Linked DNA regions of Homo sapiens: region 2 is linked to region 1. Evidence: fine-mapped expression QTL. A gene starts in region 1. The other region holds a variant in brackets. All regions are shown on one strand. Distances are between the middles of the regions.

The links.
Region 2: its variant is fine-mapped to the expression of CCDC88C in whole blood (TOPMed, PIP 0.96).

What each region holds. Positions count from the first base shown.
Region 1 is chr14:91,415,467-91,420,829 of GRCh38, reverse strand. It overlaps CCDC88C (coiled-coil domain containing 88C), which reads left to right and starts at 3,010. Exons shown (of 30, transcript NM_001080414.4): 1 at 3,010-3,199; 2 at 3,992-4,092. The coding sequence starts at 3,140. It overlaps CCDC88C-DT (CCDC88C divergent transcript), which reads right to left and starts at 2,584. Exons shown (of 3, transcript NR_184261.1): 1 at 2,490-2,584. It also overlaps the pseudogene LOC112268126. RefSeq lists enhancers at 1,595-1,644, 1,885-2,529, 4,135-4,424, 4,435-4,564, 4,955-5,084 and a silencer at 2,595-3,514.
Region 2 is chr14:91,371,216-91,376,578 of GRCh38, reverse strand. All of the region lies in intron 3 of CCDC88C (coiled-coil domain containing 88C), which reads left to right. It overlaps LOC107984673 (a long non-coding RNA gene), which reads right to left. Exons shown (of 2, transcript XR_001750858.2): 2 at 2,328-3,943. Among named protein-coding and RNA genes, the nearest start is that of CCDC88C, 44 kb to the left of the region's middle. RefSeq lists enhancers at 406-1,078, 2,541-2,610, 4,214-4,826. The variant A/G (reference allele first, on the strand shown) is at 2,934.

The DNA.
Region 1 (5,363 bases):
AAACATTCCTGACATGGCTGTGGCCCAGGGCCTTGTCAATGTCCCCAGGGGAAAATTCCCTCACCAGGATGGGAAAAGTCTCACAACTGTCAGAAGGCATTTGTCCACTGTATTTCTTAGTGTGAAAGAATAAGCTTACTCAATAAATTTTTTTTTTTGAGACAGAGTCTTGCTCTGTCACCCAGGCTGGAGTGCAATGGTGCAATAGCAGCTCACTGCAACCTTCCCCTCCCGGGTTCGAGTGATTCTCAGCCTCCAGAGTAGCTGGGATCACAGGTGTGCACCACCACACCCAGCTAATTTTTCTATTTTTTTTGGCCAGGCTGGTCTTGAACTCTTGGGCTGAAGTGATCCACCTACTTAGGCCTCCCAAAGTGCTGGGATTACAGGTGTGAGGCACTGCACCCGGCCTCAATAAATAACTTTAAAGATTCCTCATCCTTGTCTTTCCAAAAAAATTGGAAAAACAACTTTGGCCGCATCTGCATCCCTTACTTTTCAGAAGAGAGGCTTCCGAGCGAAGAGCGGTGTGTGTACACATCATACCTATTTTTGAACTAACTTACATTATGAGCAATTAAGGAACTTTTTTAAATAAAAGATTTTTAGCCGGGCGCGGTGGCTCACGCCTGTAATCCCAGCACTTTGGGAGGCCGAGGCAGGCGGATCACGAGGTCAGGAGATAGAGACCATCCTGGCTAACACGGTGAAACCCCGTCTCTAGTAAAAAATACAAAAAATTAGCCGGGCGTGGTGGTGGGCGCCTGCAGTCCCAACTACTCTGGAGGCTGAGGCAGGAGAATGGCGCGAACCCGGGAGGCGGAGTTGCAGTGAGCAGAGAGCACGCCACTGCACTCCAGCCTGGGCAACAGAGTGAGACTCTGTTGTCTCAAAAAAAAAAAAAAAAAAAAAAAAGAGAAAAGAAAAAAAGATTTTTATTTCAGATAAAATTAATATTTCCATAATTAGGATACACACATAATTAGCAAACACACATTCTTGAGTCCATTATTTAAGGTTTATTCTATAAACGACTTCCATGAGTATTAGAGATCCTGAATGTCATCTGAATATTTGTCTACACACTTGTGGGCAGCTTCTGTAGACTTTTCTTTGTAGAAATTCCAGTTTTTCTGAATTCTTCCTTTTCCTTCAGGTTTTCCACTTTGCATTATTCATAAAAGGCTGGGTCATTATAGTGAGCTGTTAAGACATTCTTTCAATGCAGAATTTTCTTTCCAGCATTTTACTACCATAAGGATTCCAGAGTTCTTGCAACATTTGGTAAAATCTTGAACTTGTCAGAAGACCTCTCTCTGGCCTTTTCTCTCATTATTTTAGGGATCAAAACATCTTTTTCGACACGTCTGAGCTGCTGCTCCAAAAACCTGTAGTGTCTTCCCATTGTTTTTGGTATAAAAATCAAACTCCTTGAAATGGTTTACAGGACATTTCATGATTCACAACTGAAACTCCTCCACAGCGATGGCACACACTCCTCTTTGATCTCAATTCTTCTTTCTTGTGGTCTTTGCTTAAACCACTGTTCTTTAAATTTCACAGAGCAACCATCAGAGTTGTTAAATTAATCCGCGGGGTCGAGTGCCATCGCGGCGGGCGGAGAAGCAATTAAGGAACTTCTCTAATGAACTTCTGGTGCACAACAAAACCATGTAGTCTCGAAATTTTAGTTCCTCCGCAGTCCCCCATTGTGTTTTATGCTACCCCGCCTTCCACAGTCTCTAGGGACCCCTAACCGACCCCCTTGGCTCTCAGGCCATAATCTCACAACCCTCCCCAGCCCAACGGGGTCCGCCAGCGCTGGGCTGTAATACCACTCGCCACCAGCAGATGCCGCAGCCCCAACGCTGCACAGAGCCAACTTTCAAAATTACCACCGAGCCTGTCGGCAGCCATTTAGTGCCTGCTGTATACTTGCCAAGCGCCACGCAGGGCCCTTCGGGTCAACCCTGTACCAGTTGGCCCAGCTGCGAAATGCGGCGATCGTTAGGGTTAAATTAGTAAAATGGTCTACAGTGCTTTGAACAATGACCGGCTGGTGGTGTGAAATTATTACCAGGCCGAGACCAGCCTGGAGCCGGCTCCTGCCTCGTGCCGTCCCGCAAGGAGGTCCTGCCCCCGGGCTTGCCTTCCAGCCAGTTGGGGCCTTTGCCCTTTTTCCTGTCGCCTGCCACTAAGCTGCTGCTAGGAACCCCGGCTGGAATTTAGCTCGCCTCCGGCAAAGTGGTGGGGGCGGGCCCGGGTCGGGGAGGCCACATCACCTGCTTCCTGCAGGAACTTTTAGAAGGCAGGCAGCCCGGAACATGGCACGGTGGGGCACGGTAGGGCGCGAGGGGCCGCGCCCCTAAGGCCTAAACTCAACATAAAGTTTCTTCTTTGCCCTCCAGCCCAGCCCCAGGGTCGGGGCGCGTTTATCGCGCCGCGCACAAGCGTGAGGAGCGGGGGTTTGCGGGGCCTCTTGACTGTACCTGGGGCTGCACCTGCCAGGAGTGCGGAAAGGCGCAGGGCCGAGGTCCCCAAGCCCAGAGCGGGCGGCAGCTGCGGGCGACCTCGGAGGGCAGAGCAACCTCGGAGGGCAGGGCGTCCCCGCTCCCGGCACGCACCAGTGCCCGCGCACCCCAGCTCGCACGTGGCGCTCGGGCCCCGGCTGCACGCGCACGCGCGCAGGGATGCGCCACGTGCTGGGGCCCCACACGCGGGGAGGCTGCGCTCGGCGAGGGCGCGCGGTCCCACGGGCGGGGAGCCGGGCCCCGCGACCCACCCGCCTCGGGCCACCAGTCCCCTCCCAGCGCCCCGCGTAGCCTGGTCCCGCGCCCGGGCTCCCGGGCTCCCGGGCTGGCACCGCGAGGCGGCGCGCCGGTCGCCCAGGGCCGCCGAGGGGCGGGGCCGCCCGTATTGTTCCTCCCCGAGCGGCTGGCCCTCCCCTTCCCCCAGACCCGGGCGGGGCGCGGGGCCGCCGAAGCCGCGGAACGTGGGCTCGCGCGCCCCGCCTTTGTCTCCCGGGCGCGAGCCGCCGCAGCCCCGCGCCCGCTGCTCGCTGCGGAGCCGTTTTGTGCCGCGGCGCGGGGGAACGGGGACGCGGGGCGGGGGGCGCGGAGCCGGCGGGCGCAGCCTCAGCATGGACGTGACAGTCTCGGAGCTCCTGGAGCTCTTCCTGCAGAGCCCGCTGGTGACCTGGGTGAGTGCGCCTGGCTCCCCGCCCCTTTGTTGGTGCACCGGCTTCTCTCTAGCCCGGCGACGGGACGCCGCAGACCCGACACGGCCGGGGCCCCGGGTGGCTCCGGGGCGCGAGGGACGCAGCAAGTGGCTCCCGGCCGGGGTTGGGGCCGCGTCCTGGAGTCCGGAGCTTTGTAACTCTGGAGCCGGCGCCCCCGTTGTGCGTCCGGCGCGGGACCCCGCCGCGCTTTCGGCCGGGCCAGGAGCCGGGCGGGTACACCTGTTCCCGCTGGGGCTCTAGGCTGGCTGCCTCGGGGCGGACCGGGTCCCAGTGGTCACTCCTGTCCCTGGGGTTTAGCCACTCCCGAAAAGGACCCCATTCTTCCCAACCAAATATCTCATGTAGTTTTTCTGAATCCCTGAGACCAGCCGGTGGATGGCGGTGACGGGTGGGGAATGGGGGGCGCCGAATGGGAAAGCGAACAGACTGGGGTGGGCGCACTGATTTACAATGGATTTGAGACGTGAGACATTTATTGAAAAGTCCTTTTTATTTTTATTTCTTCCGCTCTGGAACGCGGGAGAAAAGTGGCGAGGAAGTTTTTCCTCCTGTCTCGTGTCTGTTGCCCCGCGCGGGGAGGGGAGACAGGCCCTAGGAGAAGGCCGGGCTTGGTGCCTGCTGAAGGGTGGTGTGGGCGTGGGTGACCCCCTTCTGCTCACACTGACCCGTCCAGTCTCTGCCTGGGAGAGCTTTGGACCGTTTGTGCGCACGGGGTGACTTCCTGTCTTTCTCTCCTCGTCCCCCTCCCCGCAGGTGAAAACTTTTGGCCCGTTTGGAAGCGGCAGCCAGGACAACCTGACTATGTACATGGATTTAGTGGACGGCATCTTTTTGAACCAAATTATGCTGCAAATGTAAGTTACCTTCTTCTCGGAGGAAGGAAAGAATGGTGCGTTAGAAAGTTTGAGAGTAGAAATGGAGTGGAAGGTTGCATGGCGGGGTGTGTGTGGGGTGGGGGGTAGTTCTCTGAAGGTGGAGACGCTGGTATCTCAGTATTAACGTGCCTGTTGGACATTCGTAGGTGTTTGAAGAACTCCAGGACAGTGGGTCTGGCAGTTGGTTTGATGAAGGAAATTTGGAATTGAATGACTGTCATTTACGTGGTGTAGATAGTGCAATTGACTTCAGACTCAAGGACTTAATTGTGGTTTGAGCAATGAAATGAAAAAGTCCCCTTTTGGAGGGCAAGGAACTGTAACGGAGAGTGTCTGGTTACAGGAAGTGTCGGGGTGGGCCCAGGCATCCGAGGGTTACTGTAAAGTTTCATTTTAGATGAGGGTGTCTGTGTTTCTGAGCTCCTTTACATTTCATCTTCCTTTTTCAGTTGCCCCAAAGCAAGTGCAATTCATTAAGTCCTACTGTATGGACTGAGTTTAAAGTCACAGTGTTAGGAGGGTCCCATGGTGCTGTTTGTTTGGAAGCATGCAGCCTGAACAGGGTCTTAGTAGAAGTTACTCTTGCCAGCGAGTACATCTGACCACATCCTTTCCTGTTGCTGAGCTCTGCACGGCCTGATTGACAGCTTGCCACAACGTAGGTGTTGGCTTCTACCTTTGCATTCTGTTTTTAACTCAAACTGCAGGGAACATTGGAACTGAGTGTCGGGATGATTCACAGGCACTTGAAGCAAAATAAAACATCCTAATGTTCTCTGTGGATCAGCCTCGTGTGCGCACCTATTCACCTACGACTGAGCAAGTTGTCATACTGGAGCATAAATCTATTAGCTAATGAGAGATCAGCTTCGTTTGTGGCTCACAAAGGCAGAGGAGCAGTTTGCTTTGGCATATCCAGAAAGTGGCTTATATAGATTGCCTTAAACAGCCTGTTTAGAAAAAAATAATTCAAGAACCTTGCTTTTTTTTTTTTTGGAGACGGAGTTTCGCTCTTGTTGCCCAGGCTGGAGTGCAATGGCGTGATCTCAGCTCACCACAACCTCCGCCTCCCGGGTTCAAGCGATTATCCTACCTCAGCCTCCCGAGTAGCTGGGATTGCAGGCATGCGCCACCACGCCCGGCTAATTTTGTATTTTTAGTAGAAATGGGGTTTCTCCATGTTAGGCTGGTCTCGAACTCCCGACCTCAGGTGATCCGCCTGCCTTGGCCTCCCAAAGTGCTGGGATTAC
Region 2 (5,363 bases), 44 kb after region 1:
GCAGGAAATGTTTGTTTAGAGCCTCCCTGTGCCCCACCAGGGCTGTGTTCCCACCTGTGGGCTCTCCAGAGACGGCGGTGGATAAAAGTCCCTCACTACCTTGACTGTGGTTCCTGGGGGGCAGGGGTCCTATCTGTTTCCATTCACTATAACGCCCTGGCTCCTAGCACATGCCTTGAGGGGACGGGGGCTCACTAAACGCTTGTTGGGTGAGTGAATGAACACATGAGTGGATATAAAATCGAGGCAGTCATGAGTGTGCAAAGCGCAGAAGATGGCGACCAAGGTCAGGGAGCAGGAGCAGACAGCGCCCCCACCACCAGCCAGACATGCATATGCCCGGCGACGAGCACCTGGGTGTTTCAGGAGGCTCTGAGCTCACAGGAGAGAAGCCTGACCTATGATCGTCACCCTGTCCTGGGGGGCAGCAGCGGGAGTGACAAGTGTGGCCTTTCCTGGCTGCCACAGCCTAAAGGGTCCTCTGCGCCTGCCAGCTCCTCAGGTCTCCTCCGCAGATACATTTGGGCTGCTGGCTGTTGGCTGACTGGGTTCAAGCCTCTTCTCCTGTGAACTCGCGGGGCTGGAAGGTCTACGTTTCCAGCCCCAGCCTCGCCACTTGTAGTCATGTGACCCCAGGGCACATCCTTACTGTCTGTATCTCAGTTTATTCCTCTGTAAAATGGGCACAGTTACGGCACCTGCCCCATTGAACGCAAGAAGATGCATGCCTGCTGGAAAGGGTCAGATCAGAAGGAGACATTTGCCCCCCACTCGCCCTGAGGAGCCTCGCACAGGGAAGGTGCTCCGGGCACGGACAGGGTTGAGTCTCCCCTCATCTCGTGGCTTGGGCTGGAAGAGTCCACTTGCTGCCGAGGCAGGGCTGGCACAGACTGCCATCCTGCTTGGCTTGGCCATGGGAACAGCTGGTGAGGGTGCTTTTATTTGCCTGAAGTGTGGGCTCTCGGCCGGCCCTGCGGGGAAGCCAGAGCAGCTGGTCTGCCTCGTGAGCAGGTGCCGGGGCGGGTCTGTGCGCCTGCCCTTCCCTCCTTCCCCGAAAACGCTCTTTGATTCCGCTGCCCACCCCCCTCTTCCCCACCTCACCCACATCTGAAGAAAAGCTTCCCTACTTAAAGGAAAAAAGGAAGAATAAGCTTCATCTGATTTGATTTTTTTTGGAGTCCTCAGGTCGGAGCCTCACACAGCAGGGGTCCAGTTGGTCTAATTGAAGGGCATTGTTTCTGTCCCAGTCCTTTAGATTCAGGCTGTTCACACAGCCTGTCTCTCTCTCTCCCACATGCGCGCGCGCACACACACACACAGACACGCGCGCATGCTAACCCTGGGGCCTGTGGCCCTTCATTAGCTCATTTGGCAAATGATGGCTGAGCCCTGCTGTGTGCCAGGCCCTGGGAGAGCCCTGGGGAGCGAGACCGCCCAGATCACCACCCTCAGGAGCCCACAGCCCAAGAAGGAGACTCGAAGAGTAAGGCTGGTTTAGCAGAGGAAACTCAGTCTGTAGCTTCGTAACTAGTGAAGAGAGTTCCTGGTGTTTTGCCCACATCCCCTCGGCATGTTGTATACCACATACGTGTTACAGTGCCTGTCCCATTGGGCTCCGTAAGGGAGTGTCACCACATCTTCATTCCTGGCTCTGACAGGCACCATTGACCGATCTTGGCCCTCTTTGTCTCTGAGCCCAGATCTGGCCTCAGAATCCTTCTCAACACAGAACTCTAGGTAACCACTACCAGTCATCTGTGCCTGGAACCCAAGCTTAAACTACCCCTGGGATCACAGTGAGTTACTTGTGTGAGACTTCCTTGTGCCTCCTGAGGCTTCGGAATGAGCCTGACTGCAGAGACCACTGCAGATGCTGCCAGACTGTTGGAATGGCCTCAAAGGTCGGTTGGGCCACCCCAGGCTCTGTGCTCAGCAGGACTGCACGGCCTGTTCTGGCTGTAACCCCTTGCCCCTGGCTGTTCCCTCTGCCTGGGATTCTCCAGTTCCACCCGTCCACCTGGCTCACACCCTCCCTACACTCGCATTTTGTTCAGCTGACGATTCATCGAGGGCCCTCTTTGACCACCTGTCTGTAAGAGCTATGTTTTCTGTCACTTCCTCCTATGTTCCTTTATTTTGCTTCTTAACACACACATGTGACATATATTTACCTCTTTAGCCCTCTCATTTACTCCAATATTCCAAGCAATGAAAAATACCTATTGATCAAATGGACCTTGCATTAGCAGATACCTGGTGGACTTAACCCTGCTACTGCCTGCAAGAGTTAGGATGAGAGGTAATAGACACAGTGTGTCTAGCCAAGCTCCTGGTTTATGCAGCATGCTGATTTATTGCTGTTCGAAATAAAGTGTTCTTTACACTGTAGATGGGGGAGGGTGCGTTTAGTTGGAGGTCCCAAAAAGCCTCTGTTCTCACCAGAGCCTTCCTCCCCGCAGCCAGTTCCATTTAGCCAGCAGCTGGCAGGCATCTGCTGTGGGCCACACTGTGCAGAGCCCTGGGGGGATTCAGAGGTGAGCATGTTCCAGCATCTGCCCTGGGGACCCTGAGGATCTCAGTTCCCTGTGTGGGACTCAGGCAGGGACACGAGAGAGGGGCCTGGGGGCACTGATTGCTGAGGAAGTGATCATTGCCGGCGGAGGGGTTTGAGGAAGGCATTGGAGGCAAGTGTGGCTGGACAGAGAGGATTTTGTCAGGTGCGGGTGGGCAGGGGACCGGCTGGGCTGCCAGGTCACCTCCAACCCCTGCCCACCCCCCAACTTGGACAGCTGCTGCAAAGTTGATAACATCTTTTGAGATTTTCACTTCCTGCCGAGATATTAGTCATTAGAAACTTGTCACTTCTGAACCTTCCTCCTCCCCGGCTTTTCAACTGTGTCCCGATATGCCCTCCCCCAGTTTCCTGCTATAGA[A/G]TACATTCTTGGTGATAGAATAGAGAGTTTCTTGCTCTCTAGATGAAGTCTGATCTTTTGCTGCAAACTCCTGTAATGAAAAGAGACCAGTTTGCATGAAATGTCTGCTCTGCTGTCTGTTTCCTCCAGAAAGCTTTTTTGGAGGAGCGAGTGGGGGCTAAGGAGGGGTAATTACAGTCTTATTTATCCATGCTGGAGACTCATGGTTCCCATGTGTGTAGAATTTTTCCTTCTCTTCATCCTTTGCTATTTGACCAGCACAAGTTCTGCTTGGCCCCAGGCAGATGTCACTGATGAACCGTGGCACACTTGCTCCCAGGGCCAGACCTGCCCCTAGTGTTCTCAGCATAGCGTCCAAGCCAGCTCTCTTGAGTCCAGACCACCATAGGGCACTGGTATCGTGTGTGTTTTTCTTGGCCCTCCTGAGGCCAGAGGGAGAAGAGAGAAGGTGGCCCCAGCAGATGTCCCAGCTCAGTTCTTCCTCCTTGGTCCTGAGCCCAGGGGCTGGGGACGGTTTGTGCATTCCTGGGGATCTCTAGAATGGACCCCACTCCTCGCACACACAGGTAGCTGGGACTGTCTTCCTTTATGGGCTCACTGTGGTGACTGTGGCTTCCTGTGTTTGCCCCCTGCAGAGCTGCCCTGTGTTGAAGCAGGAGGGAGGATGGTGTGTCGCCCCGGAGCATGTTGAGAGCACAGTGCCCAGCAAAACCTGACGGCTAGGAAAGGCCTCAGGTTCAGCCAGCACCTCCGGGGGCCTGACTTCATGCCAGGCACAGGCTTGATTGTCGCTAGGTTAAGTGATGCCTGCCTGCCCGGCCACCTGCCTTTCTGGCCACCTGGCAGGGCTTGATGCCGAGGCCCAGCAGCAACGTGGTGGTGGAGCCGGCAGAGGGGACTCCAAAGCTGCTGCTGTCACCGTTTAGATAACGTGCAGACAGGGCTGGGTCCAGACTCCCTGAACGGTGGTTCTGTGCACATCTGGTTCTCAGTTGTCCTTCATCGTGGGACTGTAGCCAGAGACACAAGATGGGGGCACCTTCTGTGTCTTCCTTTTCCTTTATTCCTAGCCCTCCCTGCACTAACACACGCCTCCCCCCCCCGCCCGCCCCCCCCCGCACCACTGCCATCTACCTGGATGTCACCTGCTCCTTGTTCTTTCCCATTTCAGCTTCCGGCCACCTCCTTCTTGGAGCTTTTCTGGATTCCCCGCTCTCCTCTGCTCCCAGTGCCCCCAGCTCAGGTGCCTGCCATCCCTCTGTTAGGGTGCCAGACTTGCTGGTGGGATTTGCTGGTGGGATCAGGCTGTGAGCTCCCCAGGACAGGGCCTGGCCCTATAGCAAACACCCTGGGCCCCTCACTGTCCCCCATCCCACAGGCTTTGTCCTCCTTGTCTTTGTTTCCTGGCTTTGAGGGTAGCAGTCTTGGCTTCATACCCTCCACCTCCCAACTGGCATGCCATCAGACACCCAGCAGGTGCCCGGGAAGTGTGGCATAAATGAGAGAGGGAATGGCTGCCCTTCCTCAAGGAGCTCTCCCTGCCCTCCAGATGCCTGCCCTGGGACACTGGACAAGGAGGCCTGGTCACTCGGGAGTGCTGGTACCCCTTGTGCTGTGGTGCTCGTACCCTGAGGCCTGGGCTCAGGTTGGGGCGTGAGGTTGGGGGCTGGCTGCCCCCACTGCCTGCCTTTCCCACCCTCACAGGTCCCAGCAGGCTGGGGTGGTCTGGGCTGCCATCTACCGCTGGAGGCTCCTAGGTGCCCTCCACCATCCTGCTCCGACTTGTGCCTGGGAGTGAAGCGGCATTGTCAGGCCACCGGGTGAGGGCTGCCAGGGTGTGGCGTGGCCCCAGCCCTGCCCTGGCATAGGTGCCTGTGGGCCTGGGTGGGTGAGCGGTGGAGTGGGACATGGGACACTGTGTGGGCAGGCGCCACGTTCCCCCAGCCCAGCTACTTGCTGGGACGAGGAAGGCCTTGCTTCTGCTGAGCTAGGGAGGGTGTGCCCAGGACAGATAGGTGCCTGCCCAGGAAATCAGCTAGAGCCACCCCTGACTGGAGGGTGTGGGAGGCAGTCTTGGTCCCAGTCTGTGACTCCACAGGCTCCTCGGGACCAAGACTGTGGTCTTGGTCTGTGCTGTACTCCTGCCACCGCCGGCCTCTGTACTCCTGCCACCGGCGGGTGAGGTTGGCTGGGCCTGGACAGCACATGGCTCCTCCCATGGGACCACTACACTCATTCTGGCTGGGGGGGTCATGCCTGTCCCAGCCCACCCTGCATGCATACCGTAGTTTCCTCTGGCCACACTTTCTCTGCCCCTTTCTTGCTTATCCATCAGCAGAACTACTGACTTTTCCATCCATCAGCAAAAATACTGACTTTGCCAAGAAGCTTAAAAAAAAAAAGTACTCTACCACCATGAAGTCACAGTCA